2 separate regions of the Homo sapiens genome follow, and region 2 is linked to region 1. Evidence: fine-mapped expression QTL. A gene starts in region 1. The other region holds a variant in brackets. All regions are shown on one strand. Distances are between the middles of the regions. Region 1 holds the start of PHLDB2 (pleckstrin homology like domain family B member 2). Region 2 overlaps LOC105374040 (a long non-coding RNA gene).

Region 1 (15,314 bases):
TCCCGCAGCAAGAAGCCAGTGCAAGTTTAGAGTAAGGAAATGACATAATTAAAATGGTATTCGATGCGAAGCCTAAAATTCAAAGCCCCATCTTTCCCCTTTCCTCAAATCTGGCCCCAGCACCCTAGATCTTATCTCCTACTCCTCCCTCCCCAGCTCAGGCGGCTGTATTACTCACTCTTTCCCAAATCTGCCTTGGCTTTACTGTCCTCCTACATTGCTCATGGTCTTTCCTCTGCCTAGAAGGCCCCTCAACCTTTTTTTTTTCAATATGAAACTCACATATGTTGTCTTCCCTGTTGGACTCATAGGACACAAATACCCCTTCACCTGAACTCTTCTGTATCATTGTTTTTTAGTATATATTACATTATCATATTACAGTTATATGCTAGGCAGTATAAAACAGAGTAGGTGCTTCGTAAATTTGCCTTTAACATTCCTCATGTTCTGAATCCTGGCCCCTGCTCTCAGTTGTCAGAATTCTCCCGTGTGCTGAAGTCTGTGTATATCTGACACATCAATTTGGACATCTATCCAAATTGGGTAGATGCCCAAGGTGGCATTCTCCCTCTCTCTCTCGCTCTCTCTCTCTCCATATATATGTAAAATATATATTATATATACAATTATGTTATATGTAAAGATCATATATAATACACATATATTATATATACATAAATTAATATTATACATAGGATTATATATTATAATAATCCTTATGTATAATTATCTTTATACATAATATAATTATCTTTATGTATAACATTAAGGACAAATTGAAATCAAGGTATGGTATAACTGGAGGGATGATGAAAGTCAGATGAAAGGAAAAACAAAGAAAACCAACAGAGAGAAGAGAAGCTGAGTTCTCTTCAGTATCGAGGAATACTGCTGTTAAGGTGTTGGTTTCTTTTTTCCATGATAAGCAGATAAGATACAGAGAAACTCCTTGTTTTAAGCCCACTACGCAGGCAAAGTAGACCAATTCAGGGTCCTCAAGTGATAAGAAAAGTGAGCCAGATAACACAGCTGGGATAGGTTAATCTAAAAGACACACACACACACACACACACACACACATACACACACACCATCCTTTTCCTGCCTGATTACAATACAGACTCACAGAAAAGATTGGGGGTAGGGCAGAAGGAGAACGTTTAATGCAGAAATTAATCAGATGTTCCAAATAGATTTACATTTTTCTCATAATTAGAGAACCTACCTTGTAATTGTTTAAAGATAAACCAGCACATGGGGATAATCATTAAACTTGAGGAGACAAAAATTAGGTGTTTCCCTTTTTATGCCCCTAGGAGGTTAAAAAGTTATTTTCACTTTAGTTTTGGTTAACATTCTGGTATTAATTTGATTAATATGTTATTTATACTTTATCTATTTAAATATATATTAGAGAATGTATAGTAAAAACCAAATATTCAATAAGGTTATTGGAATAAAAATACATCAACATTTTAAAAAGGAGAGGAAAGCAAAGTCTTTATTACCGTTACACAAAAATTTAATGGTAAGCTTGACTCTGGGCTTCCTGGCAACAAGGATACAAAGAGAAACAGTGGGTTACATAGTTTCCCTTAACAACAGTTGCAGATCCAATGTGAAAATAGATGAAGATGACTTTTCTAAGAAATGAAAGTACATTCATTTTTTAGAGAGACAATTTATCTAAGTACTAAAAAGAGTGTGTAAATTGGAACTGAACTTATATAGGACAGTCAGTGTATAACTCAATGGTCAACATCATTATCAATAGTTCCAGAAAGGCAAACGTGGTTGGAAACTACTCTGCTGGGTGTTCTTTTTGTGCTGTCTGTCCTCTGTGCAAGGAATGGTACCTACATTAACACACTGGCTCATAAAATGTGAGTTCAGCCAGGTGCGGTGGCTCACACCTGTAATCCCAGCACTTTGGAAGGCCGAGGTGGGTGGATCAACTGAGGTCAAGAGTTCAAGACCAGCCTGACCAACATGGTGAAATCCCATCTCTTCTAAAAATACAAAATTAGCTAGGCATGGTGGTGCATGCCTGTAATCCCAGCTACTCCAGAGGCTGAAGCAGGAGAATCGCTTAAACCCAGTAGGCAGAGGTTGTGAGCCAAGATCGTGCCATTGCACTCCAGCCTGAGCAACAAGAGCAAGACTCCATCTCCAAAAAAAAAAAAATAGTTCTTACTTTTCAGAATAGAAGTTTGCTTCTCAGTGAAGATAAATAATGCACTCAAATTACTTGGCTATTGTATTAGTCCGTTCTCACACTCCTATAAAGAAATACCTGAGACTGGGTAACTTATAAAGGAAAGAGGTTTAATTGACTCACAGTTTCACATTGCTGGGGAGGCCTCAGGAAGCTTACAATCATGGCAAAAGGCAAAGGAGAAGCAGACACTTTCTTCACAGGGCAGCAGGACAGAATGAATGCAAGAAGGGGAAATGCCAGACACTTACAAAACCATCAGATCTCATGAGAACTCACTATCATGAGAACAGCATGGGGGAAACTGCCCCCAAGATCCAATTACCTCCACCTGGTCCCACCCTTGACACTTGGGGATTATGAGAATTACAATTCCAGGTGAGATTTGGTTTGGGACACAGAGCCAAACCATATTAGCTAGCAAAGGGGCTGAATCAGGGCTTAAAACCCAGTTCTGCCTTACTTCACAGTCAATGATTTTTCCACTGCACTTTGCAAGTAGAAACTTCTTGATTCATTAAATCATCATAATATTAAAGCGAACTTCAGCACAAACAATTGTTCCATGAGTTAAACTGCAGTAAGATTGAAATGAGTTAATAGCTACAAAGATTTGTTAGGCTATCATTGCAGAGAAAGGAGCAAATATACAGATTCAGGACATAAAAAGTTAATCAAATCCAACCGATCTTTTCTAATAAAAGAGAACAATAGCAAAAATAATTACAAATGGAATAACATAAATAATTCATAATATCACTGTATGTGTTTCAAAGTGAGCAGGTATGTACAAACCTACTCCCAAAGACCACAGAAGCTGAAAAGCCAAAGAAAGAGGCTGACAAGTCCAGTTTCTCAGAAAGAAACATTTAATAGAGACTTATGAACAGAAGCCATGTCCCCAGTGGCTGTGAAAAAAGATGGTGCATCTCCACGCTGTCACTCCCAGAGTCAAGACACATAAACTAAAGGAAAAGAATGTGTAGGAGAATTGAAGTCGACCCCTTGGGGAGAGGCAAGAATGCTCTGTGAATCTGCCCATGGGCAGGATTTATGGTCAAGGTTGTTTTGACCCAGGGGCAGGATTTAAGGTATCAGTAGATAAAGTACAAATCTTAGAGTAATTCCCAGAACTCGGGTTAATCAGAAGTCAACAGGTAATCTTCCATGGAATTAGGGTAAAAAGAAAAAAAAAAGTCAGCATGGCAGATTAGCATCCAAGATAGAGTTGCTTTAGCCTCAACACTGTGCAACACTTTAAGGTTCCCCACCTGAGAGGGTGAAGGACACAGGAAAGTAAGATCAGGGACTGTAACCACTACAGATCCTGGAGAGGCAAACAAGAAAGGTCTGCTGTTTAGTTTACAACACAATATCTCTAGTGATAAGGAATGGCAGAGCGCAGGCAGGACTCTGGTCTGTGATTAAACAGAAAACTTTATTATAAAGAACCCAGGAAATAGAAAAGGTAGAAAGACTCTCTCTTTCTTCCTTCCTTCCTTCCTTTCTTTCTTTCTCTCTCTCCCCCTCCCGCGCTTCCCTCTTTTTCCTTCCTTCCTTCCTCCCTTCTTTGCTTCCTTCCTTCTTTTCTTTCCTTTCTTTCTTCTTTCTTTCCATCACCATTACTAAAAGAAAGTCTGGTAATATAATAATAACAATAACAGTTGCACTTTATTGAGTGCTTTCTATAGATGTTGAGGTCTGCATTTGTCTTTTTTTTTTTTTTTTTTTTTTTTGGCGACAAGGTCTCACTCTGCCACCCAGGCTGGAGTGCAATGGTGCGATCATGGATCACCCAGCCTCGAATTCTCAGGTGATTCTCCCACCTCAGCCTCCTGAGTAGCTGGGACTACAGATGGTGCACCACCATGCCCGGCTAATATTTTTGTATTTTTAGTAGAGACGGGTTTTGCCATGTTGGCCAGGCTGCTCTGGAACTTCTAATCTCAAGCAATCCTGCTACCTCGGCTCCCAAGGTGTTGGGATTACAGGCATGAGCCATTGAGCCTGGACTGAATTTATCTAATTTAAGACTTGCACCTTCAGGGTGGTCTCGTCTATCTTCAGGCTGCTATGGCCTTATGAAAGCTATTGAAAACCACTCTAACTCATCAGGAATGGGAAACTTTGCTGGGTTTAGTCACTTGAAAAAGTCACATTCAATGACTACTTTTTGAGTCCCTTCCATATATAAGTCTTGGAGTATGATTCATACAAATATGAATAAAATGACTCCCTTTGCCTTCTAGGAGCTTGGCTATCCTAAGAGATAGAGATGCTAGCAGATAAAACAAGGCAGTGAAGGGAGGCCAGTGAGGATTACTTTTTGTCTAGTAATTTGGAATTATTCATTATACAGAAATATCCCCTAGTAACATTCATACTTAGAAAAGAGGTAGAAGGTAGCATTAAAGACAATGAACTCAAGAACAAGTGCTCAAATTCTGCCTCTACCAACTTATTACCTGAGTGACAACTGACTTCTCTGTGATTCCTTTTTTACTTATAAAATGGGAGTAGTAACAAACAGTAACTCTCACCGCATCAACTAATATTGTCCTATATTTGGAAGAATACCGGATACGTATACAATAGTAATTATTGCTCTCAATAAATTTAGCTATTTTTTTCTTAGACATAAATATTGGCAATCTAATTATGGCCATTCTAAATGTGCTGTGTTGGTGCACATTCTCCTTAGACCTGAAGGGAGAAAGGTTGTCTCTAAGATGTCTGTGTAGTCAAGTGTATTTCTGGCATTGCTCGAGGCAAGGAAATGTTTGCAACACAGTGCTTTGGGTCAAAGCCATCATTTATTCTTGAGCACCATTTACATGTCCGGTATCCTTGTAGGCACACTAGGGATATAGCACTGGAGAGAACAGGCAAAACTCTCTGCCTGCCTGCCTTACATTCTAGTGAGGAGAGACAGACAATAAACATAATTTAAAAAGTACATTTTACAATATAGTAGAATGTGGTGACTTTGTCAAAAAGTAAATTTAAGTAGTATGGAAAACACATTTTAAACTTTTAAGTAGAGTGGTCAGAGCAGGCCTGAGCAACACGGTGACATTGAACAGGGTCTTGAAGGAAGTGAGGGAGTGAACCATGCAGATACTTGGGAGGAGGGAATTATAGGCAGAGAGGGCAATTAGAACAAAGGCCCTGAGATAGAACGGATTTACCTAGGAATCTAGTCTACGAGGCCACTGTGGCAGGGGCTAAGTGAGTGATAAAGGGGAAGTAGGAGGCTGGGCACAGTGGCTCACACCTGTCATCCCAACACTTAGGGTGGCGGAGGCAGACAGATCGCTTGAGCCCAGGAGTTCAAGAACAGTCTGGGCAATGTGGTGAAACCCCATCTCTGCAAAAAATTCAATATTAGCTGGGCATGGTGGTCTGCACCTGTGGTCCCAGCTATTCAGGAGGCTGAAGTGGGAGGATCACTTGAGCCCAGGAGGTTAAGGCTGCAGTGAGCTATGACTGTGCCATTGCACTCCAACCTGGGTGACAAAGTGAGGCCCTGTCTCAAAAAAAAAAAAAAGAAAAGAAAAGAAAAAAAAATTCCAAGGTAATGGAAATAAAATGATTGTATGTTTATGGGGATGATCCAAAAAAGAGGAGGAAAGAGATGACGTGGGTGAGAAAAGAACATTGCTGGAGCACTTAACTGTTTAACTGTTGGATTGATCAGTGTATGTATGCTTCTGCAGGGCAAAAACTCAGGACAGGGAAAAGAATTCCTCTAAAAAACCCGGCATTCCTAACAAACATATGAAAAAAAGCTCATCATCACTAGTCATTACAGAAATGCAAATCAAAACCACAACGAGATACCATCTCACGCCAGTTAGAATGGCAATCATTAAAAAGTCAGGAAATAACAGACGCTGCAGAGAATGTGGAGAAATGGGAACGCTTTTACACTGTTGGTGGGAGTATAAGTTAGTTCAACCATTGTGGAAGACAGTGTGGCGATTCCTCAGGGATCTAGAACTAGAAATACCATTTGACCCAGCAATCCCATTACTGGGTATATACCCAAAGAATTATAAATCATTCTACTATAAAGACACATACAAACGTATGTTTATTGCAGCACTGTTCACAATAACAAAGACTTGGAACCAACCCAAGTGCCCATCAATGATAGACTGGATGAAGAAAATGTGGCACATATACACCATGGAATACCATGCAGCCATAAAAAAGAATGAATTCATGTCCTTTGCAGGGACGTGGATGATGCTGGAAACCATCATTCTCAGCAAACTAACACAGGAACAGAAAACCAAACACTGCATGTTCTCATCATAAGTGGGAGTTGAACAATGAGAACATATGGACCCAGGGAGGGGAACATCACACCCTGAGGCCTGTTGGGGGGTGGGGGACAAGGGGAGGGAGAGCATTAGGACAAATAACTAATGCATGCGGAGCTTAAAACCTAGATGAAGGGTTGATGGGTGCTGCAAACCACCATGGCACATGTATACCTGTGTAACAAACCTGCACGTTCTGCACATGTATCCCAGAACTTAAAGTATAATTAAAAAAGAAATTTAAAAAAGACATTCCGTAGGTGAGGCTCTCCCTAAAAGTCAAACTTTTACTTGCACATATGAAAAGTGTAATCATTAAATAAGCTATTTCTTCAGTGACGGTATACTGAGTTCTGCTCATGGTGCCAAGTACTTTGCATATATTATTCAGAAGCTTATTAGCTGCCCTGCAGCACCAGTATCATTTATTGCTGCACTCCAGGTGAAGAAATTGTTGCTGGGAGCTACAACAACTTGCCCAAAGCCACAATGATCATAAGTAGTTTGCGCTTCGTTGTGCTCTTCTTTGCTGGTGTGAGATTCTCGAGGGCCAATGTCCTTCATCTGCGTAACTCTAGGGACTCGCCCAGACCTTGGAAGAGGTTCACATTCCCGCGTGCCGAGATTGATTATGGGCCACCCTCGGTCTCATTCGTTGACTTCCAATAAAGCATTGGCTGGTGGACCTCTACATCAGCATTGTTTTCATTGGATATAGCAACTCAGAAAAATATTGGGGAAAATATAAAAACTTTCAAGAGATATGATTGCAAGAAAATCAGAATGAGTTTAAAACCCTCCTGACCCCAGTCCTTAGCTCAGGCCGTTCTCCAAGGATTTTGCAAACCTGCTTTCTGACGCAGCTGGTAAACTTGCCCCGGGGCGAACTGTCGGAAGGAGGTGCGGTCACCTGGAGTTTCCCAATAGATACTTCGCTGTCTGGTGAGGAAATCATCACCCTAGGACGTAAACCCTCCCGCCCTTCTTTCAGCTCTTAAAAAAAGCCTGCCACGAAAGTCCCTACTGCGTTGCTGCGAACGTAGCTTTGAGAAGCTGGCGCCCAGTGATGGGGCAAACAGCCATGCCCTTCCAGCAGCCGTGAAAGCCCCAACAGCAAACTGCCTGGGAGCGGGGCAGGTCACCAACTTCGTTGCTCGAACTCCCTGGGTGCCCGCCGCGGTGGTTACAAAGGGGGTCAAGAGTGCCGGACCCAGCCGCGCGGAGCCCACCATTGCGGCCCGAGGGGGACCCGACGGGGGCCCGACGGTGTGGCGTGGCGCAAGGAGCGCGCCTGCCTTCTCTCGCCGCCGGGAACGGGCTGCACCAATGGCCAGGTGAGGAGGCGGCGGTGGTCGCCCGGGAGGAGGGGGTGGTGCCGACTCCGTGTGCCAGGAGTGCGTCCCGGGGACGCTGCCTCCCCCGCGGCCGAGTTGGTTGCCGCCGGTTGCGCTGCGGAGGGTTGGGGGCGGAGAGGAGGCAGTGGCTGCCCGGGCCGAGGAGGGGCGCGCTGACTGCTCACCGCGAGTCAGGAGGGGCCGGCGGGCTCACGGAGGGAGACAGGGTGGGCGGGGGCAAAGGCTAGGCGCTAGGGCGGCGGCGCCAGCGTAGAGCGGCGGTTTGGAGGAAAGATGAGACGGTGAGTGGGCTCCGGGGACACAGAGTTTCTTTGCTTCTTTACAGGCTGTAGGGACAAAAGCCCGGGCTGGGGTCGGCAGTGCCCAGGCTGCGCAGCTGGGTGGGTGGGGGTGGCGAACCCCGTTGTGCATGACTCTCGGGGGGCTGGGTAGATCTCCGGTTGAGGGGATCCCGGGGAGGGAGTGTCTGGTAGGGAAGATGCTTCCAGAGTGATTGTAGAAAACAGGCAGAATGTGGGGGAACTGGGGGCAACTTTTTCCAGCAACTCTGGAATGCACATGGAGAGAGGGATGGGGATCCTTGGGATAGCTCCCTGAGAAAGAGAAGGTCCGCTGCTGGATGGTGTAGGGCGCGGGATTCAGAGAAGACTCCCTCCCCGCAAATATTTGGCTAGCTGCGCTTCTAGTTCCACTTTCTTTCAAGAGTGAACCTACGAGCTTTAACCGCCAAAAGCGGCTGATTTCGATTTGGCCTTTGACCCCCCACTGAAAGTTTACAGTGTGGCCGTCTCGGCACCCCTAGAGATAGCAGCTGGAAGGCTTGGGGAGTATTTTAACCCTCTGTTTCTCCAGCTCCCTGCGCGGCGGAGGCGCAGCTGAATCGTTTGCTGGTTCGCTTAATAACTTAGCCCTAGCAGTCATCACTTATTAAAGCGCCGAGGACCTGGCTAACTCCCGCCACCACCAGGAAATTAAAAGGCTGACAGGCTGTCCCTCCCAGGGTTGGGGTTTCCTGTTTGAAAGAGCTTGAGAAGTCAAACTGCTTCGCGGTTCCTCACTTACCTTTCTTATGTAAAAGAGGGAGCGACGCCCGCAGCTTTTTCTCTCGGTAAACTACCCGTGGCTGGAAATCCTCCGGGCGCCTGGCCCTGCCCTCTTCCCTAGAAATCTTTATCCTGCAACTCTGAAGTAGCTCTAAAGAGCTCTAGAATGCACAACTAGTCATAGCCAGGCACAGCTGGGAGTGTAACTAGACGAGGCATAAAAATGTGGAGTCTTTTTAGTGTAAATATTTGTCAGCCACATTTCCCTTCGTAATATGAACGTGTAAGTTACAGATGTAGGTTTTCAAGTATTGGACGTGTAATTTTAAGCTTCCTAGTTTGGTTTAATTTGGGCGTTCGAGATATGTCTCTGGGATTCTAACGTTTGAATTCGGCTGGGAGAGATCTAAATGAGGTCCACAGTTTCAGAAGGTTAAACTTTTGCCCTGTGAACACTTGAATTCTTGGTTCCTGGTAGGTTAGCAACAGAACTGTCGGATTTGGGATAAATAAACCGTTAGAGTTGCCCACTATTTTAACAGAATGGCTATATCTCTCTTGCCGTTGCCTTCAATTGTGTAAATATTTGTTTGAATAAAGAGCGAAGGTTCTTTGAAAAGTAACAGTTCTGTCTATTCTTGGCTCCCCTTTCATATCCTCTGCTTAGTTATTTAAAAGGATTTTCTTTGCCTCTTACATTTAATGGGGAAATTTAAACATTACATGTACTTAAATTCTGTAAAGTTACCAAACCATTTATAACTGGCAAATTATTTAATGACAAGGAAGAGTTGAGTTTGTCGTCTTAGTTGGCTAATGTAGCCTTCATCTCTTGAGACCCAGAGGTTTGCAGATCTCAGCCTGTCAGAAGTGGAAAAATGAGATGTCTGGTTAAGAGTAGTCATCATTTCAGTCAATTTGCAGGCCTCAATCTGTTTTATGCAGCTGGCAGCTGCTGTTCTTTTGGTGTTGAGATCGTCTGCCACGAGTGTCGCCTGGATCCCTGTTTGAAAAGGGGAGGAAAAGATACTTGGGAAATTGGACTGAGAGCTTGCTTACTCCTCCGTTCAATAACTGTGACCAAGCTGAAACTCGTTAGCAACCTTTCCAGAAACGTTTTATTTACCATGTGTGTTTGTTGTGTATGCAAGAGAGGAAAAAATAAGCCAAAGTGATTAACCAATCTCTGGTTTTCCCTATTTTCTTCAAAGCTCCATTTTGAGATCTATAAGCAAGGGTTGACTCTCGAGTTCATTGGAGAAGTTACCTCGGCTCACTACAACTTCTGCCTCCTTGGTTCAAGCCATTTTCCTGCCTCAGCCTCCCGAGTAGCTGGGATTACAGGCGCCTGCCACCACACCTGGCTAATTTTTCTATTTTTAGTAGTGACAGGATTTTGCCATGTTGGTCAGGCTGGTCTCAAACTCTTAACCTCAGGTGATCCACCTGCCTTGGCCTCCCAAAGTACTGGGATTACAGGCATGAGCCACCACACCCGGTCTCCTTTTAAATATTTTTAAAGGAGTAGTTAACGTTATGGCTTTATATCCTGATTTTCAACCCTTAGCAGGGAGGCAGTGCTATGGTGCTGTGGATGGCTTAGAGTGACAGTGGCTTTGTACATTTTCTAGGTGGAGTACCTGTGCCTTATGAATCTATCTGTAAAGTCTTGGTGTACCAATTGTTGATTGTGTAAATGTCACTCTTTTGAAACAAAAACACCTAAGTGATGTGCTTTATCTTAAAGTCCTGACATACATTAGAGCTGTGGTTTTCACTGGGAGAGGGGTTTTGGCCCCCAGAGGATACTGGCAACGTATTTTTGGTTGTAGCAACTGACAGGAGGAGAGTGCTACTGCCATATAGTGGGTAGAGGCCTGGGATGCGGTTAAGCACCCTGCCATGCACGGGACACAAAAACAATTATGCAGCCCCAAACCCTGCACTACAGTATTGCCTGGGGGAGTAGGTTAACAAGATTAGGCATCTTAATCTGATTTGGATCCTCAAGAAACTTGTTTAACTGTGTTAAACAAGAGACCCTTATCATAGAAGCCGTTTTGTATGCAGCAGATTCTTTTGTCCTTGCCATTTAGAGTCTTAATATACCATAGAGGTCGAGGAACTTGTGTTCATTGACAACTTTGAGATGGATTAAAGTCATGGGATTTGGGAGCATTAGAGCACAAGGGAGCCTCAGAGATCACTTAATTTCTACCCCTTCTTTTTATAGATGTAAAAAACTGAGACACTCAGAGCTTTAGGACTCATAAGGTCTCAAGCGAGCTAAGGGCGGGCAGACAAAGTTCTAGGTACAACCCAGGAGTTAAAAATTTTAAAATAGAGATTCAGGCAAATGGGAACAAAAAACAAAACACACTGGACCTGACCTTGTGTAAAAGTTTCAAAGCACCATTCCCTGTGAGAAAATAAATAAATGCTTCGATGGGGGAGGGGTGGCATTAGCCATAGAGACTGTGGGGCACGTGCCTGGGTGCCCCAGTCCCAGAAAGGGGTAATTCCATTATATGACCTGTGACACTCCACTTCTGATGCCTGTACTGTCCTTTCCATGGCAAAGTAGGCAACAGATGGTTCCACAGACATAGCAGATGTTGCTTTTGAATCCAGGTACAAAACAGAACATTTGAGATTTTCTGTTCCTCCCTGCCTTATCGGTTAAGAGTAGAGTACATGAATGGATAGGGCTGGCTTGGACAGAAGGGAGAATTACAGAGGCCTCCTGAGTATGGAAGAAAAAAAGACACCTGGCATATATGGAAATGAGCAAGTGTTGGGGAAATTGTGGGAGAAATTCATAAGCTGATGAGGGGATATCTAATATAAATTCAATTGCATAGAACTAGGATTAAGAATCAGAAGACAATTCAAGCTTAGCTATTCTTTCAGCATGTAGAACAAAATAACTATGGGGGTAAAAGGAACCTTAGAAATCCTCTTATCTGAATCTTTTCCCTCCAACCAACTAACTGGGTTAGATAGCGGCAGAATCTGCAAGCCTCCTGTTCTATTGTACTTTCTCCTGCACCCACAGTCTCTACCATTCCATGTGTTTACCTAATGGGAAAGAAAATGATAGTAAAGAAAGTTATTGTTAATTACTTGGGAGAGTTTAAAAAGCATGGTATTTGTGAATGGCTGTTTATAGAAAGGAGTTACCTTAATGAGTTTATGATTATCAGAAAAGTTGTACACCATAGCCTGATTAATTACAAACATGTATACTCTCCTGTTTACATTGCTATGGTTAGCCATTAGGCTCATGATTATAGATTCTAGTTCTGGGTGCCAAGCTGTCCTCCTGTGGTAGTTATTTTATCTAATACTCAAATCTGACAGGTTCTGGCCATATAGGAAAGTTTTTAGTATGCCTTTGGTGGGAGACATAAAACCTCTGAAAAGTGTTAAGATAGTTTCTTATCATTTTGACAACTAGCCAAAGGGTGCACCTCAAAGCCAAGTACATAGTGATATATTTAGAAATGACTCAAGAGTGATAGCCCTTTTAAGGGATCTGCCCCCCCGCAGGTACTATGCAAAAGGGGTGTAGCAGTCTTTTCATTATCATCTTTCATCTGGCCATTCTTGTTACTGTTTTTCAGATGATGGGAGAGGAGACAGGAGTAGTTTTTAAAAAAATAACTGTTGGCTAGAAATATTTATTGGGATTTGATTAAAGTAACTTGTCTTTTAAAAATAAATGAAACCAAAATTGTTAGCTCAGATTTTCAAATCCCTTCAAAGTAAACATTTAGCAAGGCAGAACTTCTCTCTATGTTCATCCAGGAATTTGAACCTTCTGGGAGTTAATTTGCTTACAGTTGTTTTCATGACGCTTAAGGATGTTTCTTAGACATTGCAGAAAAGGAGCTTTGTGCTGTATCTGCTTTAAAGGCAAGATAGTTGTCTATAGCAGCTAGTGGTCAATAAGAGAAACCCAAGTGTAAAAATCATTTTACTGTTGTGTGGGAAACTAGAGGTTGTAGGTAATTGCTATACAAAGAAACAGATTAATAAGATATAGAGTAACAGGGTTAGTCAAAAAGTTTTTGAGAGGATTTTTACAGGAGATACTTGTTTAGTGTGTTAGGTTGATTTTATTAGATGAAGTGCTTTTCCTTACTTTACAAAGTAAAAGGAAAGAAAATATTGTGTATGCCACTGTTTATCGATGGCCTTAAGCCAGGTCAGCTTTTTCTGAGACTTGCTGCTAATTCAGTGGGAATTGGTGTTGATCATCTTAGAATGTTTTGTTTGCACATTGCATGTGACTGCCCTAGATGGCAGTATGTTCATGGAACTAGCCTATGAAATAGCAAAAAAGTTAAAGATTACAAGAGTTTTCCAAGATTTCTTTCTTGACCACCCTACTGCTAAAACAAGGAAAGATAAAGGCAAAAGAAACCCAGCTCCTACATTCTTTTGACCAGTGCAGACCCAGTGTGAATAGTGCCGCACAGCCAAGAGATATTCAGAGGGGATTGAGAAGTGATGTCTGGCTGCCTCACTGCTTACGTCATTGCAGAAGTAGCTTTTCAAAAACAGCTTAAGATTTATTAAGGAAACTGCAAGCCATGGGAATGCAGACAAAACCTTTCTTATACATCATGCTCAATCAAATACCCATATTATATTACATTACCATAACTCTGACCAGGCCTTTTTCCCACTATGTTATGCTAAAACAATTTACCATGCCTTTGGAATGTCATGGGCAACAGTCCGGTGAAATCTTTTCCCAATTAGGTAGCTGCCACCTTATCACTAAAACTATTTCTGTTCTGTGGTCATTTCCATTTCCTGCATTATGTAATGAGCACTCCTGTGTTATTTAACCAGTATCTGTGGGAGTCCAGAAAGTTGGAGCAGAAAGAACATGTAGTTCACTCTCACCATGTTGAGTATGGAGAAACTCCTGTTGAAACAAAATGAAGACAGGCGAATTGACGTGCTCCAGATCTTAGTTCTGTTAGCAGAACCAGAACTAAGATGGATCTTCTGACTTGCTTCCCTGGCAGCCTATCCAGTGTTCTTTCTACTAGATTGGCCACTGTAATAAAAATAACATCCTAACGTAACCATTTCCTTTATTAGATCTTTTGGCCAGAGTTATTAAAAAAAAAGCATTGATTAAAATTAAATTAAACTTAGTCAATTGTTTATCTTGACTTGTTCAAGTTATTTCCCTTCTTTCAAGCAGTAAGTGGTCAAAAGGTAGATAGCATGGAAGGGAAAAATTAAGTGTTTTATAATACTCATTCTGCACAATCAGCTGCTAAGTAATGAAGATATGATATTATCATAATTATTATTTTTACTTTACAATATTTTAGAAACCTACCCCACCCACTCATTTTTTTTTTTTTTTTTTTTTTTTGGAGACAGAGTTGCTCTGTCACCCAGGCTGGAGTACAGTGGTGCGATCCAGCTCACTGCAACCTCGGCCTCCCAGGTTCAAGTGATTATCCTGCCTCAGCCTCCCGAGTAGCTGGGATTACAGGCATGCACCACCACACCCAGCTAATTTCTGTACTTTAATAGTGATGGGGTTTCGCCATATTGGCCAGGGTGGTCTCAGACTCCTGACCTTTGGTGATCTGCCCACCTCAGCATCACAGAGTGCTGGAATTACAGGCATGAGCCACCGAGCCCGGCCTCATGTACTCAATTTGTGATGTAAAGCGAAATGCATTACAAACATGGAAGATGTGGTTGACCTGTGTTTGTTCCACCTCTTGTGAGCCTGTTTGTACCCTGACTATTCCCAGTTCATAAATCTTGGGTTAGGGAATGGGAATTCCAGCAAGTATTTAGGTCTGGGGAATGTTACTTTGGAAAAATTAAATATTACTCTTAAGGGAGTGTCTTTTGATCAGTAGTGTGGGATGGGGCAGGATGGCGGCAAGATCGGAGAGTTTCCCTCCCATACACTCTCCTCAGCTTCCAGTTAAAGTCCACGGAGGTGGTTTCAGGGTCAAGAGAGAGCATCTTTATCTACATATGATCCCCAGGTTGATAATTCTCTTGCTTGAAATTAGCTTTGAGATCAAAAGATCAGAGGGTGCTTTTCCCTGTAGCACTCCTGTGATTAAAGAAGAGTATCTGAAGTTAGTTATCCCATGATTCTGCACTTCACTGGGTGATTACGTAGTAAAGGAAGACCCTTCTAGCTTTACGGGGGACTTGATCAGGATCCTTGGTTAGGATTCTGTGAAGAACTTGACCTAAAGAGCTCCTCCACTCTCTTCCTTAACATAAGTTTCTAAGGGGTGTGTGTGTGTGTGTGTGTGTGTGTGTGTGTGTGTGTGTGTATTTTAACCTTTTAATTGAGGCTGGAATTCTTGATATGGAG
Region 2 (15,314 bases), 55 kb before region 1:
TATCTATGTGTTGACGTGATTATTGACTCAATATCTGTTTCCCCCACTGACCACATATCACCAGTGCCTAATGAATAGCAGATGCTAAAGAAATTAACAAATGAAAAAGAAAGATGTGGAACTTTGAATGGTTTAAGTTCTATTTAGGCAGACACACACACACACATACACACACAGAGAGTAGTTATTGTGGGTTATAGACCATCTCACTTTCCTAATTCTTATCTCAGACACTGAATAACTAGAGGCCCAGCCATTGCCACAGAATTTTTCCTTCATATTCTTGTTGACTGCCTTACTTGAAAGCAATTCAATCCATGTGTAAGGATTCCGTAAGACAGTCTGTCATGAGACAAAGGCAAAAATCCCTTGGTTCTATTTTTGCTACCATCTGTGTCTTTTTAAACTCCTCCTATATGTGGAACTTTTTCATTGCTTTGTTTGACTTCTGTAAATCTGCTAAATATGTTTACAAGCAACTTTCACAACCCTTCTCCACCATCACTCCCACTTTGATGTCCTACCATTTTAGAACTGGATAGATATTTAAGATGCTCTTAACTTTGCAGAAAACAGAACAACCAAGCCTCAGAGAAATGAAGTGATTTGCCGAAAGCTACGCAATTGTGATTACTCAATTGTAGAGAAATAGGGTAGGGTGCAGTGGTTTGCGACTGTAATCACAGCCCTGTGGGAAGCCACTGTGGAAGGATCGCTTGAGCCCATGAGTTTGAGGCCAGCCTTGGCGATATAGTGAGACACCCATCTCTATAAAAACATAAGAACATTAGCTAAGTGTAATGGTGCATGCTAGTAGTCCCAGCTACCTGGGAGGCTGAGGTGGGAAGATCCTTTAAGCTCAGGAGGTTGAGGCTGCAGTGAGCCAAAATCATGCCACTGCACTCCATCCTGGGTGACACAGTGAGACCCTATCTCAAAAAATTAAAATTTGAAAAATTTGAAAAACAATTGTAGAGGAATAGAAAACAAGGTGAACTTCTAAGACCTTGGCCTTTATAATTTACTCCCAAATTTTCTATCTTAAAAAAAGAAGAAGAAAAAGAATCAGGGAACATTCTAAATCTGAGAGTGCTCTAATTTTTCAAAAGATGTTTAAAAAGTCAATTTTTACCATCATTCTAAAGAAAGCAAGGAAATAAGACCTAAAAATATTTAAAACTCAAATCATCTGTATAGGAGAATTTTGGTATGTTCTAGGCTTCCTTGTGTTTACTTTTCATACTGCTTTCTGTAATCAAGTAAGATTAAGTGAAAATTACCTGGGCCACAAAACTGCAATGAAATTATTAAAGCATTTATTTAAAATATTTTCAGTCAGGTGCAGTGTATCATACCTGTAATCCCAACACTTTGGGAGGCTGAGGCAGGAGGATCACTTGAGCCCAGGAGGCCAAGGCTGCAGTGAGCTATGATCATGCCACTGTCCTCAAGGCTGGGTGACAGGGCCGGAGCCTGTCTCTAATAAAAATAAAATAAAATAAAATAAAATAAAATGTTATTTTATCTTTAATCTGAACAATTCTAGGATCTGGCATCTTTGATGTTTCCAATACAATCAATTTCAAAATATATGCTGAATTTCTACTATGCAAAGGAGTGTTGTTTAGACCTCATATGAGGGCCAGGAAGGTGAGCTAACATGGAGACAGGCTGTATGAGTCCACTCTCATGCTGCTAATAAAGACATACCCAAGACTGGGTGATTTATGAAAGAAAGAGGTTTGATTGACTCACAGTTCAGCATGGCTAGGGAGGCCCTAGGAAACTTACAATCATGGCAGAAGGGGAAGCAAACACATCCTTCTTCACATGGTGGCAGCAAGGAGAAAAATAAGAGCCAAGTGAAGCAGGAAGCCCCTTATAAAACCATTGGACCTTGTGAGAACTCACTATCACAAGAATAGCATGGGGGAAACCACCCCCGTGATTCCATTACTTCCCACTGGGTCCCTCCCATGACACCTAGGGATTATGGGAACTAAAATTCAAGATGAGATTTGGGTGGGGACACAGCCAAATCATATCACAAGCATTAAGAAGCTGGTACTCTTATTATAATGGGAGAGGCCCACATAGCCAAAAAAATCACTCTGAAATCTATCATGGTGTCAGCACAATTTGAACACAGACTGCTGTAAATAAAAGAGGAATAGTAGTCTTTGAATTTAATACTAGAAAAAAGTATTAGAAAAGAAAATTAAATTCTACTTCAGTTCTTCACATTGGTGAGGTAGACAGCTTCAATTGGTCTTTAAAAATATAGACTGATTTTCTATAAATTATTTTTTTGAAAGCTAGAAATACTTTAGAAATATGTCATCCCAATCAGAAAAAAGAAATTCTAAAGGAAGGTGAGGGAGAAGAACAAACAAGTAAATGTGAAATTGTCTCAAAGACATCAGGTTGGGTACTGAATTAAGTTTTTCTTAAAATCAAATTATAAAGACTTCCAGCAATTTCACTGCTGGAAATTTATACTGTGAATATCTTCCTATGTGAAGATATCTATTGTGGTTTTCCATAATTTACAGAAACTGAAAACAATGTTATGTATTCATCAGAAAGGACTGCTTTATTTAACTGTGTTCAACACATGTCATAGAGTACTATGCACTCCTGAAAATGAATTAGGGAGATCTATAGATACCAATATGGGAGGAGGTCTAAAAAATATTACTAAGTAAAAGGCAAGGAAAATAACTATATAGAAATATAAATAGAATCCTATTTGTGCAATAACAAGAGTGTATAAATGTACTCCTCATAAAGCATTTCTAGGAGGATACTCGAGAAACTTTTTTTTTGAGACAGAGTCTTACTCTGTTACCCAGGCTTGAGTGTGGTGGCACAATCACGGCTCACTGCAGACTCAACCTCCCTGGGCTCAGGTAATCCTCCCACTTCAACCTTCTGAGTAGCTAGGACTACAGGCATGCACCACCATGCCCACCTAGTTTTTGCAATTTTCTGTAGAGATGGGGTTTTGCCATGTTTCCCCGGCTAGTGTTAAATTCGTGGGCTCAAGTTTCTGCCTGCCTCGGCTTCCCAAAGTGCTGGGATTACAGACGTGAGCCAACATGCCTGGCCAAGAAACTCTTATTGAGCATATCTTTGGAAAATGAGACTGGGAAATTACATGAAAAGAAATTTTTATTTTATACCCTCTGTGCCTTTTGATTATTTTAAAATTATGGAGAGGTATTACTTTTGTATTACTTTTTGTTTATTAAATTCCTATACTATTATGCATATATCATTTTAAAACTATAGTTCTTTTAAGTTAAGTTTACTTGGGCAAATGTCCTAATTTCTTTTCTCACTGTATATCTTTAGTTTCTATATTCCAGTGACTTTGTTGTGGACTATGTGTTTGCCTCAGATTTTCCCATCTCTAATAATGTCATGAACTGGCATTTCTGAACTTTCATTTTTACTATTGGACTCTTTAATCCTGCTTGTTTTAAGAAGCATTTTGCAAGTTACACGTTAACTAAGATGCAGTACCTGATTTAAAGGGGACATACAATGCAATGAGAGAGACAGAAACTATTTTTACTTCATAAAATCCAGTTTTATAAAAAGCTCTGTTAATAACACTGAGGGAGTGTGAGAACACAAAAGAAAGCTTACTAAATTTGGCTGGGGAAAGAATCAAGGAAGATTTCTAAGAAGTTATGCCAATTAAGATAAATCTTGAAAAGATGAATCAGCTGGTACAAGTATAATACATTGCCTTCATAGATCATTTTGCAAGACTTAGAATTAGTGAAATTTAGACATAGAAGAGACCTTAAATAATATTAAATGTAACATTCTCATTTTTAAAATAGAGAAATGTGACTTGTTAAACAACATGAGCTGTGGGGTCAAATTCAATGGCCAATACAGAGTAGACACTTAATAAATATTTGCTCCCTTCAGAACTGGCCACATAAATTACAGGGCCCAGTGGAAAATGAAATACAAGGCCCCTTGTTCAAAAGTTATTAAGAATTTCAAGACAGTCACAACAGAGTGTTAAAACAAGCATAGGCCCCTCTGAGCACAGGGCCACATTGAAATAACCCACAGTCCTGGGGTTCATGAAGCAGGCCTCCCTCCCTCCTCTAATCTAAGTTTCAAGGGGTAAGTAGACACAGAAACTAAACAAGAACTCAGGTCTCCTTTGGATACAAAGACCTCAAAATTTTAAAAGCTCATAAACAATCTGTTCACCCAATATTTTTAACTGAGGTGATATGAAGATCTCATATTTATCTTTATATAATAGTTAATAAATTTGTGCCTTTATTCATTCATGTCACAAATATGAATAAATGTGTCCCAAGAGCCTAGGACAAGGCTGGTTCATAATAAGTATTCAGTGAAGAGTAGGTGAAGGATGGATGACCAGATGAATGAGTGACTAAACAATAAGCTACAATTGAGTATTATTGCCCATAAAAAGAAATAAAATTTTGATACATGTAACACCATGAATGAACCTTGAAAATATTATGCTAAGTGAAAGGAGACAGACACAAGAGATCACATAACATATAATTACATTTATATGAAATGTGTGGAATAGTCAAGTCTATAGAGACAGAACATACATTAGTGGTTGCTGGGGACTGGGAGGAGGGAAGAGTAAGGAGTGACTGCTCATGGATATGGGTGTTTTGTTTTGTTTTGTTTTGTTTTGGAATGATGACAATGTTCTGGAATAAGATAGCAGTGATGGTTGCACAACTTTGTGAATGTAATCACAAATATCATCAAATTCTAGACTTTATAAAGGGTGGATATTATAGTATATGAATTCTATCTCAATTTTTAGAATGTAAAACAATAAATTAACCAGGATAGAAAGATTTAAGTAACTTGCTAAAAATTGATTTGTGTTACTTGTGATGATTATGCATCTAACATCAAAACTTTGGCTCCTAGTTCAGGCTTTCTCCAGTCTATCAAGCTACTGCACAGAAAACTGCAGAGTGCCACCAGCTATCTCTATGGCTCCATGGAGCACTGTGCTTACATACAAGAAACCTCTCTTGTACCAAAGTGTAAACACAGTGGTGGCTGCATTCTGCCTCCAGAGGATCTGGCCTACAGAGTGAAGAATAAAGGGGAGACAGAGCAAGGGGAGAGCACTTTCCAAGAGCTTCCTCATTTTCTCTGTGTTGTCCTAGACACCACCCACTAGCCTTGTATCTCAGGTCTTGGTTGAGAAACCAAAATAACTAATGACACTCCTATGATGCCTTGGCAGCATTCCCTGATAACTTAGAATATTTATTTCCTGTTTTCCCAACTCTCATTTATTTCCATGCTAGCATAGAGCAAGATGACGTGTAACCTCTTGTGAAATGCTTGATATTTGTCCCTTAGAAGAGACATTAGTACTATACATTTAGCAAATAGTAAAATAACAACACTCATAGCTTGTTCTTGTGAGTAATATGTGAAAGTTTTCTAAACTGTATTTTAGTTTTAACTTACATTCGTTACAGCAGAGTGAGGCAAGCATCATGCATTCTCTCTCTTTTAAAGAAAAAGCACTAAAACTTCCATTTTTTCACTTCTAGTTTATGATCCTCTCTTCTTCCTTACCATGAGAATCAATAAGGGTGGGTGGTGTGAACACATGTTTTTTGTCCTGTCAGGAAAAGTTAAAGGTTATGGTCCTGCTCCCAAATGATAGATAATTAATCATCTTTAAAATGGCAACCTGTCACTGGAAAAGGAAAAGCAGAAATATAAAATAAAGCAGATATATGATATCAGGTAGCAACAAGGATGTCACAGATTTAATGAGTATAGGGGATGTTGTACAAAAAGTTTTATACTAATCTCTAGAAACAAAAGAAAAAGCAGAAATGATCTATATGTTCATAGTCTATATGGCCATCTCTCTAATTTTGAAATCAGCAGTCATTCCTTGGTTGGCATCTGCTACTTGGGAGCAGAGGATGGAAGAACACAGCAAACAAAAGTTTCATCGTTAAGCTGTGAAGCAGAGGGAACAGGCAGCTAGCCAAAACTTATGTGGTTCTTCAAATTTCTGATGGGGATCAGAGTGCCTCTCCCTCACTGACAAATATGGAATGGAATGTAAGGTTGCTACTAACAGGGTTCTCTGCAATCCTGAGATTGGTTCTGTTCTAGCCAAAGCTCTTGGATTCCTGTAAACTCCAGTCCAGTTGAAAC[T/C]TCCCGGGAGAATGTGCCCCCACCACCCCGTGCAGAACTCCTGGACATCTTAGTGACAGCCCCACCCCCACCACTAGTCTTCCCAGAATTCGAGCTGTGAGAACACATCAATTCCTGACTCAGGCATTTGAGTCAATTTTCAGTGAACTCAGGATAGTAGAATGGAACACCATCTCACCCACCAGCAATCCCTGGCTAGCACATGAGTGGGAGGAAATCATGGGCTTTGAAATCAAACAAACTCAGGTTCTTACATTCACTAATTACACTCAGAAACTGTGTATTCTTTGTAGAATTTGAAAGTGTTAACCTCATTGAGCGTTACTTCCCTCAGCTATAAAAAATGGATATAACAATTTTTTTCTCTGATGTTGCTTTAAAACAAAGTGAGATAAAGAATGAAAATTTCCAATTTACAAATATTTCTTAACAAAGCGTAGATTTGTTCCTTTCTATTCCAAAGCTAATGACTTCAGGTGAAATGGTATCTTGAGAGTGGGGGGCATTCTGAGGAATCAGTCTCAGACCAAATTCATGTAATCAGTTGAAAACGTCCTGTTTGATTAGTCCCTTTAAACTCTTTATGTGCCTTTCCTGTCCTCTAATTCAGTTTCTAAACTTTTGTTCAGTATCACATCCCTAAAGAAGCCTTTTTAGACATTTTTTCTGATCGTCCTCTCCTCCATGAGATTTAATGCCACAGAGACACCATTATGTTGTTTGTGAACTGTATATAGGTATATCTGTGCTTTATACATTAAAATAGTAAGAAAATGTTAAACCCCCCAAGAACCAATTTTCACCCTTTGGTGGACAATATTGTTCCTATTGAGAACACATGGTCTATAAACAAACAAAAAGTTAGAAGAATCTTTGAAGAGATAATCTTTTAAAGCCTGTGAAAGAAGACATTATTGAATTCTTCTGAAGAACAGAGTCTTCCCTTCATCATCTCTTAACTATTAGAGGTAGAAAACTTTGGCGAAGTTTTAACAATTTCTTGATTTCCTATGTTTAGCCAATGATGTTCAGGTCAACCTGTTAGAAATAAAGAAAGAAGCCTCAGATGCAAAAAAGTAAATGATGATGCTAGGCCCCAACCTACTGATGTATTGTTTTCTACGCAGAGTATAAGATATACTATCTGCAGCATAAGTACAGTAATAATGGAGCTAAACCTCAAAAAATTAGTCCCACATCACTTGACTAATAGGTTTCTACTTTACTCCATGTGGATGTCCAGATTTTGCCCAATTAAACTTTCATTTCTTATTTAAAATTACAGCTAATACTTACCATTGAAATTTTGGGGGGAAAACTTTGCTAAACTGCAGTGTTTATTTGACTTTTTAAATAACTGTGATGCTGAACAGTAAGAATTAATTTGCACACAGGGCTTCTAAAAAGTGGGCCACTTCTTATTTTGAGAAAAACTTCAAAATTATGTAATAAATTTCACTGAGAAATAAAATATTGACATAAATAACAATAGAACAATATCAAGTTTTTGGTAAAATAAAAAGTTATTCATGTGAAAAATAAAATAATAGAACAATACTAGGTGCTGGGGAGGATGTGGAGCAACCAGAAGTCTTATACACTGCTAGCAAGAATGTAGAATTTGAAAGTGTCAACCTCAGTCACTTTGGAGAACAGTTTGACAATTTCTTAACACGTTAAACATACGTGTGCCTTGTTACCCAACAAGTCTACTCCTAGATATAGGAATTTACCCAAGAGAGATGAAACATAAGTCCACAAAAGACTTGTACATAAATGTTTATAGCAGCTTTGTTCATTATAGCCAAGAACAAATTATGATATATCCATACAAGCTAATACTACTCAACAATAAAAAAAATTACTGGGGCCGGGCGCTGTGGCTCAAGCCTGTAATCCCAGCACTTTGGGAGGCTGAGGCGGGCAGATCACGAGGTCAGGAGCTCGAGACCATCCTGGCTAACATGGTGAAACCCCGTCTTTACTAAAAATACAAAAAAATTAGCTGGGCATGGTGGCGCATGCCTGTAGTCCCAGCTACTCGGGAGGCTGAGGCAGGAGAATGGCACGAACCTGGGAGGCGGAGCTTGCAGTGAGCCGAGATTGCGCCGCTGCACTCCAGCCTGGGCGACAGAGCAACACTCCGTCTCAAAAAAAAAGAAAAAAAATTACTGGATAAATGCAACAACATGGATGGGTCTCATAAACAGCAAGCTTAGTGAAAGAAGCCAGACACAAAAGTATACATACTGTCTGATTCCATTTTTATGGAATGCTAGTAAAGACAAATCTAATCTATAGTGACAGAAAGCAGGTCAGTGGTGCCTGGGGCCAGGGGTGGTGAGTGGGAGTGTTGACTGGGAAGGACACAGGGAAATTTTGGGATGATGGAAATGTTTATATCTTGATTGTGATGGTGGTTGCATAGATGTATGCAAAAAAAAAAAAAAGAAGAAGAAAAAAGAAAAGATACAAGAAGTCAAGAAAGAAGCCAGTCACAGAAGACTACATTTTGTATTATATAAAATTCCATTTATATGAAATTTCTAGAAAAGGCAAAACAATAGAGACAGAGAATTGGTCAAGAGTTATCAATTGGATACTTAAATGGGTACATAAAAAAACAGGTCAAAATGTTGTTAAAGATTCAACAATTCAAGTTATCTGCTGTGAAAATGCCATAAAGAGTTAGTATCTCTAGAATCATTATAGCAGTCATCTTCTAGTGCAAGTCCCAGTACCATTTTTAACAGCCTTATTGAGGAATAATTTGCATATCATAAAATTCTCCCATTGTAAGTGTACAATTATAGAATTTTTGATGACTATATATGATTATGCAACCAGCACCACAGTCCAGTTTAAAACATACCCATCACACCAGAAAGTTCCCTCACACCTGTGGCAGTCAATCCCCTCTCCCACCCCAGCCAACCACCGAACCAATTCTCTGTCTCTATAGTTTTGCCTTTTCTAGAAATTTCATATAAATGGAATTTTATATAATACAAAATGTAGTCTTCTGTGACTGGCTTCTTTCTTGCCTTCTTGAATCTTTTCTTTTTTTTTCTTCTTTTTTTTTTCTTTTTTTTGAGACGGAGTCTCACTCTGTCACCCAGGCTGGAGTGCAGTGGCTCAATCTTGGCTCACTGCAACCTCTGCTTCCCGGGTTCAAGCAATTCTCGTGCCTTCAGCCTCTCAAGTAACTGGGACTATAGGCACGAGCCAGCACACCTGGCTAATTTTTGTATTTTTAGTAGAGACAGGGTTTCACCACACTGGCCAGGCTGGTCTTGAACTCCTGACCTCAGGTGATCCGCCTGCCTCGGCCTCCCAGAGTGCTGGGATTACAGGCATGAGCCACTGCACCTAGCCCTTCTTTTTTTTTTTAATAACTTTTTTTTTGAAATGGGGTTTCACTGTGTTGTCCAGGCTGGTCTTGAACTTCTTCCTAGGCTCAAGCACCCTTCCTGCCTTGGCCTCCTAAAGTGCTGGGATTACAAGCATAAGCCACCATGCCCAGCCCCTTTTTGTTTTCTTAAGATGAAGAAGTTCTAGTTATGGGACTTGTAAGAGACATTAGTTGCAGGTCCAGAGCACACATTTGCCGATTCTCAGTCCAGGACTTAGCTGTGACACCATGCTATTGTCAGGATACAGTATACTAGATACAGGATACTAGAATAGGAAAAAAATAAACCTGGTTTAGGGGATCAGAATGGCTATTTCTAGCCATCCAACTCAACTTATCTGAGATTCAATTTTCCCTTATATACAATGAGGATAATAATGTCTAATGCATAGCTCTGTTGTGAGGAATAAATTAAGTGTACAGAGTACCAAACATAGAGACAGGCAAACATTAGGAATTTAATAAATGATAATTGCTGACTAGAAAATCACTTAAAGTACAAATGTTCATCTTGAGACAAAGAACATAAAGAGGGAAAGTCATAAATGTTGGAAACTGAAGATTAGGGTTTAAACATTGACTTATTTAAATCTCAAAAGAAGCATGAATCCCTGCCAGGCATAGTGGCACACACCTGTAATCCCAGCAACTCTGGGAAGCCAAGTTGGGAGGATTGCTTGGGGCCAGGAGTTTGCCCAGGAGGCCTGGGCCACATAGGAAGACCCCATCTCTACAAAAAAATAAAAATTTAAAAAAAATAGCCAGGCGCGTGATTTTTTTAATTTACACGCCTGTAGTCCTGTAGTCCCACTTGTAGTCCTGACTACTCAGGAAGCTGAGGCTGAAGGATTGCTCAAGCCTAGGAATTCAAGGCTGCAGTGAGCTATGATGGACCCACTGCACTACAGCCTGGGCGACAGAGTGAGACCCTGTCTCAAAAAAGGAGAAGAAGAAGGAGAAGGAGAAGAGAATAAGGAGAAGGAAGAGGAATAGGAAGAGGAGGAGAATGAATCTCACAGATTTAAGACAGTGCCAGCTAAATTGGGAATTATTTGCTAAATGTAGTTAACTGAACATTGCTTTATTTCTTTGATAAGAGGACCATTTTATAAATAAGCTGGGTGTTTTTTTTTTTTTTTTTTGCCTAATTTTATGAGTGACTCAATAGTTCTCAGGCCTGGCTGCACATTAGAGTCACCTGGGGAGTGTTAAAAATTACCAATGCCTGGGACCCAGCCCAGAAATTCTGATTTCATCGGTCTGGAAAGGGGCTGGGGCATTGGTGATTTTAAAGTTTCTCCTGGCAATATTAATGTAAAACCATTGTAAAGAACTCACAGCAGCATTAACAGTTTGATTCTCTGGGTCTTAGGGAATGTGTTCAAAATTGTGGGGTGAACTGTCTTTAGAGTATGCCACTCTGACATCTTAGAAAGAGACAAACCACAGAGACTAGCTGTACCCACCCAGATGTTCTATCCACAGATGATCTTTTCTTATTTTTCTACATGGTGTTGTATGTTTGTGCAATCAAACATAAGGGCTTTGCATGAATGACATTAGCTATGTCTGCTCGGAAAAAGGAGGTTGCCCTTCACCTCCACATCCTGTGCTGCCACTTTTCTTTTGAGTCCTCGGTCAGAGCTGGGTGTTTAAACATATATTCTGGGTTTTTTTTTTTTTCATCTTTTATTTTGGATTCAGAGGGTACACATGCAGGTTTGTTACATGGGTATACTGCGTGGTGCTGGGGTCTGGGACATGGATGATCCTGTCACTCAGGTAGTGCAGAAAGAGTAAACATGTATTCTTAAGCAATACATGTATATCTCATGAGTCACAGCTTCAAGAAGACAAATACAATCTGCATGGACTGGTGCTCTAATTAAAAACTCTAAAGACTCAGGAGGCCTGGATAAGTCTCCTGCCCTCTTTGGTCTTCAAATATTTAATTTGTACAATTAATGGATTTCCTTTTATAACCCTAAGGTATTTTCCAGTTACTATGATTCACTGGTTGTAATTCTCATAACTAATATAATAAAGAGCAAATTCTTTATATAGCATCCATTTAGAACTCTACTACTAGTACTAAACAATTCCTAAAATAAGGGTTTATATCTCTGTTAAAGTCATTAGTACATACACATAAATAATATCTTGGTCTTTGACTAGTATATTTATTTACCAAGAAATGCAATGGCTTAATCTATACTTTCCAGAAGGAACTGACTGCTGTCATCGAGGAGGAATAGTCACATAAATAAATTATTGTTCTTCACACATAGTACTCACAAAACCTTAGTTAATTGATTATTCAATTATGATATTGTGAAACTGTAACATGACATTAATCATTACCTGGTGAAATGATCATGGGCCTTTGTGTGATGCTGCGGCTTCCTGGGAAACTCACTAATGTATTCACATAAACCAGATGTGCCAGAAGAAAGCTCTTGCTGTGGAATTGATGGAGAGTTTGTTTAAAGAAAGGAAAACAACTCTAAATAGTAAAATAAATATTTTCTTCTGCCTTTGGGTGACCTTATGCTCAACCTCTTCCCTTATGAGAATGCTGTCTCCAAGCCTGTGGTTCTATGGCATGTCAGTAATCTGAAAAGTCTATCTGAAGTCCAGCAGTGGGCCACTGCCCAGCCTCACAAGCCTGATTTCCTCTTCTTTTCTCCACAAACACCCACATACTTATTAGCTCCCTCAGTTCTTAAAATGGATTCTTTTTATCTAATGCCAACTTATCACTGTATATCAGGTCTTTGACCCTGAAATATCTTTAGTAAGTTTGCTTTTCTTTGTTGCTAAGGCAAAGCCTGGCAGATTTACCTATCATCAAGAAGCTCTGATTTGTGGTGGTGCTAAGTTTGGAAGAAATATGAATCAATGAAATAACTTACCTGAAGTAAGAGTCACTTTAAATTAAGTTTATCAGCCCAGTCACTTGTAAAGGTTTGAAGACAATAGTCATGATGTAATAAAAGAGTATGCAAACTCAAGAGTTTAGATACACCTCAAGCATATAATAGAGTAACAAATTTCAGTTATGCAAGATGAAGACGTTCTAGAGTTCTGTTGTACAACCTATAGTTAGGAATTCTCCCTCCTCAGCCTCCCAAGTAGCTGGGACTACAGGCATGCATCACTGCACCCAGGTAATTTTTTAAAACTTTTTTGTGGAGATGAGCTCTCATTATGTTGTCCAGGCTGGTTTAAGAGCGTTAGTGCATCATGTTATGGTTAACAATCCTAAGGAAACACCAGTAGGGCATCACTCTAACACTGCCATGGAGCTATCTGAAAGAAGCTAGAGGCTATTAAGCCAAATGCAAGGTGACACACACAGAGGCCATACACACTAACCACAACCTGAGAGCACCTGAGATAGGAAATATGTGTTCCAGGAAGGGGCCTATCTGGGACCATATTACCGTGTGTTTTCATGTCCATTTCTGAAACTAGGCCTACTCTGCATGACTATCTTAATCTCCTCAGGCTGCCATAACAAATACTATAGACTGGGCGGCTTAAACAACAGAAGTTTATTTCTCACAATTCTGGAAGCTGGAAAGTTCAAGCTCAGGGTGCCAGCATGCTCAATTTCCGGTGGGAGCCCTCTTCCTGGCTTGCAGACAGCCCCCACTTTGTTGTGTGCTCACATGATCTTTCCTTGGTGCATGTATGTGAAGAGAGGGCTCTGTCTGTCGTCTCCTTTTAAGACCACTAATCCTATCAGATTAGGACCCCATTCTTATGACCTCATTTAACCTTAATTACCTCCTAAAAGTTCTCTTTAAATACAGTCATATTGAGGGTTAGGGCTTCAACATATAAATTTTCCAAGGACGCTATTCCGTCCATAGCAATGATATAGCAACCCACACAGACTATCCCTAAATGTAGAAATCAGTGTTACTCTTCAAAGCAACACATTTTTAAAAATATGTCTTCCAAATGCCTTATTTTTGACAACGGAATCCTTTGTCCAAAATAAATTTTACAAAGATCCTCAGTATATAATATAATAAATAAATACACTGGACAGTAAGTTTGGGAAATGTGTTTGATCTGTGTAGGGATGTACAGTTGTATCTGCACTAAACTAGCTCTGCAAGAGGATACAGAAGAGATTTCAAAGAGCTGTCATCCTAGGTAAATGGCCCAGATACATGCTCCATGAACCCCCTCAGGGAAACATCTTTGCTATTAAACAGGATAATCTGTAAGCAGAGCCAAAAAGGACTTTGGATGCAAGAAGAGACCAGGGGATGTCTCATCCTGAGTCATCAGGATATTTCTCAGGAGGATTTAAGTAACTGGTCTTACAGTTAAAGCCTCCTATAAAAATGTACTCCATTTAGCATTTAACTAATAAAACCAAGTACCTACAAAACTAGAAGCTTTATCCCATTAAGGAACCTTTCAGGACTTGGTGTTTGCATGAAACAGAAAGTAATCATTGCTATAGGAGAGTCCAAGTCTCTTCATGAAATCATTTTAAAAAATGTATTCTACTGTGGTCAGGAGAACTCTTGCATTATGCATATTTTGCTACCAATTAGTCTTGGTGAAGAAATGGCCCAGTTTTCTCACTGGCAAATTAAAGGGTAGATTAGGCCAGTGAGTGTCAAGCTTTAATGTACAAAAGAAATCGTTAGGCAGTTTATTTATTATTAATAATATGCAGGTTTTTAACCTGTAGGCCCCACAAAAATTTTGATTCACTTGCTCTGTGACAAGATTCAGGAATCTTAATTATTTACTGGCACCCTATTGATTGTGATACAGGTAATCAATAGATTCCTCACTACACACACACATACACACACACGAAAAAATGAAATGATGATCTTTAAACTCTTTCTGTCTTTCAGATACTATAATTCTGTTTTTAAGGTTCATATAAGCAAAGCAGGATATTAGGCCTACATTCCTGACCTATCTGCCAAAGAATTATTAAAAACAAACATCTTTTGCTCACTCTAAGCACACTGGATGATGCCATTATGATAAAGTCCAGGAGAGAGAAAGAGATGAAATCATGATGTCTAAACTATATTCATTTTTGTGACCTTCATCCTATATAAGCTGCTTTCCACCTTAACTGTGCATGTTCAAAACATTGCCCCAAGGTGAGAGAAAATTGCTTGGAATGTTCCTTCATCAACATCTGCTCTCTTTCTTCTGGCCCTGCTATCAACCCCGTCTCTGTGAAATCTCAGAACCTGAATTCCAGTATTTAGATTAAAGAAAAGGGGCTTCTCTGCTGTCTCTTATCTCTGATTCCATTTCCAAGGCCATTAATATATTTCAGGCAGACAGATTTTTGTTTTACAGACTATTTCTTTTTCTAGGATGTTCCCAGTCATTTAGAACATCATCCATATATCCAGGCCATCTTTCTGTGATCACCATTTGTTTTCAGTTGATACAAATGGAGTTTAAGACAGTTTCCTTGAAGGCAGGAATGCTGTGTGTGAATTGTGACTCTATGAAAAGTTACAGTGAACACAAAAGCTAACACTTTGTAAGAACAGTACTCTGCAAGGGGAAATGGAGAGGACAGTATAAACATATGATGTCTGAATTAGCAAATGAAACATAAGTTTATGTGATGATCCAATGGAAGGACCAGGTAACTGAATGTTTTCATGGAGTTTCTCAACTTTGGAAGGAA

The links.
Region 2: its variant is fine-mapped to the expression of PHLDB2 in fibroblasts (GTEx, PIP above 0.99). The same link has a PIP of 0.9 or more in subcutaneous fat and tibial artery.

What each region holds. Positions count from the first base shown.
Region 1 is chr3:111,851,700-111,867,013 of GRCh38, forward strand. PHLDB2 (pleckstrin homology like domain family B member 2) reads left to right here and starts at 7,566. Exons shown (of 18, transcript NM_001134438.2): 1 at 7,566-7,877. LOC105374040 (a long non-coding RNA gene) reads right to left here and starts at 9,117. Exons shown (of 4, transcript XR_924333.4): 1 at 8,961-9,117. RefSeq lists enhancers at 7,388-7,974, 7,975-8,559, 8,890-8,999 and a silencer at 8,024-8,083.
Region 2 is chr3:111,797,198-111,812,511 of GRCh38, forward strand. LOC105374040 (a long non-coding RNA gene) reads right to left here. Exons shown (of 4, transcript XR_924333.4): 3 at 11,987-12,084; 4 at 1,981-7,251. LOC107984087 (a long non-coding RNA gene) reads right to left here and starts at 1,398. Exons shown (of 4, transcript XR_001740848.2): 1 at 1,356-1,398. It also overlaps a transcript of PHLDB2 not described here. The variant T/C (reference allele first, on the strand shown) is at 6,214.